Homo sapiens: one gene and its partner. Changing the gene in region 2 together with the main gene of any one other region gives a genetic interaction. Each region holds a gene or a part of one and is shown on either strand. Other genes may lie near its edges.

The links. Genes that interact genetically often act in the same process or in processes that back each other up.
Region 1: changes in SLC3A2 (region 2) and CSK are lethal when combined (synthetic lethality), as found in Homo sapiens cells (one large-scale study listed by BioGRID).

The regions. Positions count from the first base shown.
Region 1 is NC_000015.10:74,795,580-74,799,079, forward strand, and holds part of CSK (tyrosine-protein kinase CSK), read left to right. Parts: intron 1-2,632; exon of another isoform or gene 2,633-2,653; 5' UTR 2,654-2,718; coding exon 2,719-2,733; intron 2,734-3,035; coding exon 3,036-3,149; intron 3,150-3,246; coding exon 3,247-3,359; intron 3,360-3,500. UniProt on the Homo sapiens protein: Non-receptor tyrosine-protein kinase that plays an important role in the regulation of cell growth, differentiation, migration and immune response.
Region 2 is NC_000011.10:62,883,896-62,886,627, forward strand, and holds part of SLC3A2 (amino acid transporter heavy chain SLC3A2), read left to right. Parts: intron 1-93; exon of another isoform or gene 94-217; intron 218-561; coding exon 562-630; intron 631-736; coding exon 737-795; intron 796-1,281; coding exon 1,282-1,462; intron 1,463-1,569; coding exon 1,570-1,713; intron 1,714-2,732. UniProt on the Homo sapiens protein: Acts as a chaperone that facilitates biogenesis and trafficking of functional transporters heterodimers to the plasma membrane.

The sequences.
Region 1 (3,500 bases), on a different chromosome or scaffold from region 2:
CAGGTCCAAGGGGGCTCTGGGCTGGGATTACAAAGTATGTGTGTGCAGACGGGTGGGTTGCTGCTCTCAGGGAATGGGGTTGGCTAGGGTAGCTTTTTTGGGGAGTCAACTTTATTGAAGTAAATATACGGTTGACCCTTGAACAACACAGGGGTTGAGGGCATCAACCTCCTCCCTGCAGTCAAAAAATCATATATTAACTTTTGACTCCTCAAAAACTTAACTACTAATAGCCTATTGTTGTCAGAAAGCCTTGTAGATAAAGTTGATTGACACTCATTTTGTTTGTTATATATATTATATACTGTATTCTTACAATAAAGTAAGCTAGTGAAAATAAAATAAGAAAATCATATGGCCGGGTGCAGTGGCTCACACCTGTAATCTCAGCACATTGGGAGGCTGGGGCAGGCGGATCACTTGAGGCCAGGAGTTCAAGACCAGCATGGCCAATATGGTGAAACCCTGTATCTACTAAAAATACAAAAATTGGTCTGCTGTGTTGGCGCACGCCTATGATCCCAGCTACTCAGGTGGTCAAGGCATGAGAATCACTTGAACCTGGGAGGCGGAGGTAGTTGCAGTAAGCCGTGAGTCACCCCACCACTGCGTTCCAGCCTGGGCGACAGAGTCTTGCTGTCTCAAAAAAAAAAAGAAAGAAAATCATAAGGAAGAGGAAATATATCTACTATTCTTTAAGTCGAAGGGGATCATTATGAAGGTCTTCATCCTTCACATTGAGTAGGCTGAGGAGGAAGAGGAAGAGTTGGTCTTGCCGTCACAGAGGTGGCAGAGGTGGAGGCGGAGGAGGTGGAAAGGAAGGCAGAAAAGGCAGGCACACTCAGTGTAACTTACTGAAAAACATCCAGCCACGTGTGGTGGCGCATGCCTGTGGTAATCGCTACTTAGGAGGCTGAGGCAGGAGGATTGGCTGAACCCAGGGGTTTGAGGCTGCTGTGAGCTATGATCACGTCACTGCACTCCTGCCTGGGCAACAGAGTGAGACCCTTTCTCAAAAAAAAAAAAAAAAGAAAAGAAAAAGAAAAAATCCATGTGTAACTGGACCTGCGCAGTTCAGACCCGAGTTGTTCAAGTGTGCACTATACACCAAAAAGTGTGCCGATCGCAATGGTACAGCTCAGTGAATTGTCACAGAGTGGACCCACTTCATGATTGGGCTCAGACAGTCTGAAAACCAACCCCAGAGGTCCCCTTGCATTCCTTCCAGTCTCCCTGTCCCAAGAGCAGCTATCCTGACAGCATGGATTAGTTTGGCCAGATTTTGAACTTTATTCAAATGGAATTACATAATATGTACTTTCCTGTGTCTGGCTTCTTGGTTAACATTTTATTTATTTATTTATTTATTCATTCATTTAGAGGCAGGGTCTCACTCTGTCGCCCAGGCTGGAGTGCAGTGGTGTGACCTTGGCTCACTGTAGCCTTGACCTCCCCAGGCTCAAGCGATCCTCCCACCTCAGCCTCCTGAGTAGCTGGGAGTACAAGCACGCAGTACCACCCCCGGCTAATTTTTGTATCTTTAGTAGAGACCGGGTTTCGCCATGTTGCCGAGACTGGTCTTGAACTCCTCCTGGGTTTAAGCCATCTGTCTGCCTCAGCTTCCCAAAGTGCTGAGATTACAGGTGTGAGCCACTGTGCCTAGCCATCATTATGTTTTGAAATTTATCGGGATTGGCCAGGCACGGTGACTGGCACCTGTAATCCCAGCATTTTGGGAGGCCGAGGTGGGTGGATCACCTGAGGTCAGGAGTTCGAGACCAGCCTGGCCAACATGGTGAAACCCCATCTCTACTGAAAATACAAAAATTAGCTGGTTGTGGTGGTGCATGCCTGTAATCCCAGCTACTCAGGAGGTGGAGGTTGCAATGAGCCGAGATTGTGCTACTGCACTCCAGCCTGGGTGACAGAGCCAGACTCCATCTCAAAAAAAGAAAAGAAAAGAAATTCATCAGTGTTATTTAATGGTTGGAGTTTGTGTTGGAGTTTATTTAATGGTTGGTGTTTACTGCTGTACGTAGTCCCTTTTGTGAATATGCCACTGTTTATCCATTTTCCTCTGGATCGGCATCTGGGCAGCTCCCAGTTTGAGGTTTATTACAAAGCATGCCACTTGTAGCCCTCCTGTGCCTGTCTAGGCAGACACATGTCCTGTGTCCTCTCGGTGTGTACCTAGAAGTGGGGTTGGTATATGTTTAGAGATGCTACCTGGGCGGGATTTTGCAGGTGAAGGACCCAAGGACCCACAGAGCATAAGGGACTTTCTCAGATCACATAGCCCCTTCTCAGAGCTGCTCCGGGGCCCCTTTCCCCACAGAACAGTAGCTGGAACCAGGCCTGGGGCTGACGGTCAGGTGTCCATTGTCCCACTAGCCCCCTTTGCTCCTTTCTATCAGTCCTGGAAGGCCCCCTGTGGCCTTAGGGTTGGTGGCTCCCTCTGCCCCTGGGGGTCCTCAGCCCTCATGCTCCTCTACCCAGTACCGTCAGCCTGCCAGGACTGGAGAGAATGGCCCATGTGTCAAATCCCAGCGCAGGACACTCTTGGCACCTGTTCATGCCCAGTGAGGAGCCAGATCTCAGCAGTTGGGGGGCATTTCTTCACACCCCTCCTCAGTCTTCATGCTCTTCCCCACAGCTCTAATGGTACCAAGTGACAGGTTGGCTTTACTGTGACTCGGGGACGCCAGAGCTCCTGAGAAGATGTCAGCAATACAGGTACCACAGGGGTGAGGGTCTGGGACATGCAAGCATTCCCACCAGCCCCAGCGGGGTGCTTAGCAGAGGAGAGAGGATGCAGCTTAGATCAACCCACTCCCCTTTTTCCCAGCACTCAGTCAGGTACAGGCCTGGGGAAGTGGGGGAGTCTCAACAGGAAGGGACCCAGGGCTCGTTCTCCGGGCAGAGCACCTCACCCAGGCTCACAGAGGCCAGCTCAGAGGCTGTGACCACGAGGGTGCGCCAGCAGGTGGCTGGAGGGGGCCCAGGCTGCACCCGCCCACGTGTCACCTGCCTTGCAGGCCGCCTGGCCATCCGGTACAGAATGTATTGCCAAGTACAACTTCCACGGCACTGCCGAGCAGGACCTGCCCTTCTGCAAAGGAGACGTGCTCACCATTGTGGCCGTCACCAAGGTAATCAGGTGACGCCCACCCCACCATCCCACTGCTGGGCCTTCCCTCTGCAGGGGGAGGTGGGCCTGAGAGCATGTCTGGGCTGCCCTCTCCCCAGGACCCCAACTGGTACAAAGCCAAAAACAAGGTGGGCCGTGAGGGCATCATCCCAGCCAACTACGTCCAGAAGCGGGAGGGCGTGAAGGCGGGTACCAAACTCAGCCTCATGCCGTGAGTACCACGAGGAGGGGTTGGGGAGGGAAGGGGCCTTGGTCCTCCTGAAGGAGCATCAGGAGCAAGCAGGGAGGCCAGAGTGAGGGGCTTGGGTGTTGGGGAGGGCCTCAGGAGGAGGTGCAGGGTGCGGGTGCGGGA
Region 2 (2,732 bases):
TCAAATCTAAACTGCCCTGGGGCTATGCTTTGAATTTCAATCTTTCATCCTTGGCCTTGCTCTGAGCAGTTATTGTACTCACACCTTCCCCAGGCCTCAGGAAACTGGGAGAGGGGGGATCTTGACTGACATTTTAGATCCTGTCTGCTGCTCACTGATTATGACTGTGGACGCGTCTCCCTGCTTCTCTGGGTCTGTTTCTTCATCTCTAAAATAGGTATGCTAACATTCCAATGCTAAGTGTTAAACGAAGTTATGTTTATGGACATACCTTTTCTCTGGGGCCTTTTCTGTGGCTTTCAAAGTTGAAGCTGTGTGATTTGCCAGAGGCAAGAATGAGAAGTAAAATGCTGTAGCACTAAGAAAATGAGTGGAAGGGTAGAGCTGGAGGGGTCCAAAGGCTAAGCCTTTGTAGTGCAGGTGGGGAAGACCCAGGCAAGGCACAGGACTCTCCCCAGCTCCCGGGGAAGTGTGTGGTGGGTGAGGTTTAGTGTGGGCTGGAATTTTCTGAGCCTTTTCCTGAGAACTGATGTCTGTCCTTTATTCTTCTGCCCCCTATAGGATGCTCTGGAGTTTTGGCTGCAAGCTGGCGTGGATGGGTTCCAGGTTCGGGACATAGAGAATCTGAAGGTGAGTTCCCTTTCCACATTAGGGACAAAGCTTGGGCGAGAACAGAGGGACTCAGCTAGAGCCTCATAATATTCTCTGGTCCTTGATTCTGCTTTTTTCTTTCTAGGATGCATCCTCATTCTTGGCTGAGTGGCAAAATATCACCAAGGGCTTCAGTGAAGACAGGTGGGTGCAGGAGCCATTCTGCTGACTCAGCTCCAATGTGGGAACCCCTCAGTGGAGTGCTAGGCCTAAGAAGGGGGGATTCCTAGTCTAGAGCATTTTCTTTACCTTTATTCTTTCTTTAGCTTTTTTTTTTTTTTTTTTTTTTTTTTTTTTTTTTTGAGATGGAGTTCCGCTCTTTTTGCCCAGGCTGGGGTGCGATGGCGTGATCTTGGCTCACTGCAACCTCTGCCTCCTGGGTTCAAGCGATTCTCCTGCCTCAGCATCCCAAGTAGCTGGGATTACAGACGCGGGCCACCACACCTGGCTAATTTTGTATTTTTAGTAGAGACGGGGTTTCTCCATGTTGGTCAAGCCAGTCTCGAACTCCTGACCTCAAGTGATCCACCCGCCTCAGCCTCCCAAAGTGTTGGGATTACAGGCGTGAGCCACTGCGCCTGGCCCCATTCTTTCTTGTGCTAACCTTGAACTCCTCCCTCCCCTCTGCAGGCTCTTGATTGCGGGGACTAACTCCTCCGACCTTCAGCAGATCCTGAGCCTACTCGAATCCAACAAAGACTTGCTGTTGACTAGCTCATACCTGTCTGATTCTGGTTCTACTGGGGAGCATACAAAATCCCTAGTCACACAGTATTTGAATGCCACTGGCAATCGCTGGTGCAGCTGGAGTGTGAGTACCATGCTGGTGGGAAAGGGGGCAGATGGGAGAAGAAAGGGTTGTTGGGAGACAGAGGCAGAGGTGGGTTATGGGGCTCACTGGAGTGTCTCTCCCTGTAGTTGTCTCAGGCAAGGCTCCTGACTTCCTTCTTGCCGGCTCAACTTCTCCGACTCTACCAGCTGATGCTCTTCACCCTGCCAGGGACCCCTGTTTTCAGCTACGGGGATGAGATTGGCCTGGATGCAGCTGCCCTTCCTGGACAGGTACTGCTTGCTGTCTTTCTGTCACAGGGAGGTTGTTTATCCATCTTACAATGATGATTCTGGGGATGGCGGCACATAGACGTGAGCCTTGGGGTGAAAACGCGTTTGATTCTTAGTCAGTAGCTGAGTGGCTATGTGGCTTTGGGCAAATTATTTTACCTTTCTGAATTTTGGTCATCCCTTGTGTTACTGCATTTCTTGAAGGGTGGTTAGTATTAAATGAGGGCATGTTTTTAATGGTAATGCCTGGTACCTGGCAGATGTTTGCTATGGTAGCCACCATTCATTTATTCATTCCTTTATTCTTTGGACAGTGGGTACTGTGCTAGGCTCTGTGCCCTCAGGAGCTCATAGTTTAGTGAGGGAGCCAGATAAATAAGTGGAGAAGTACATGGCAGTGGCTGGGCACGGTGGCTCATGCCTGTAATCCTAGCACTTTGGGAGTCCAAGGTGGGTGGATCACTGGAGGTAAGGAGTTCGAAACCAGCCTAGCCAACAGGGTGAAACCCAGTCTCTACTAAAAATACAAAAATTAGCCAGGTGTGGTGGTGCACGCCTGTAGTCCCAGCTACTGGGGAGGCTGAGGCAAGAGAATCGCTTGAACCTGGAGGCAGAGGTTGCAGTGAACTGAGATTGTGCCACTGCACTTTAGCCTGGGCGGCAGAGGGAGACTCCTTCTCCAAAAAAAAAAAGAAAAGAAAAGAAAGAAAGAAATACATGGTAGGGATACTACTACAAAGGCATTCACTAGCTTTAGATACAGGGTTACTGTTGATCCCCGACTTTTTTTTTTTGTTTGTTTGTTTGTTTTTTGTTTTTGTTTTTAAGACAGCATTTCCCTATGTCGCCCAGGCTGGAGTGCAGTGGCATGATCTTGGTTCATTGCAGCCTCCGCCTCCCAGGCCGAAGTGATCATCCCACCTCAGCCTCCTGAGTAGCTGGGATATGTACCATAGATAGGTGCGTGCCATCATGCCCAGCTGATCTTTTTTTTTTTTGGAGACAGGTTCTTGCTCTGT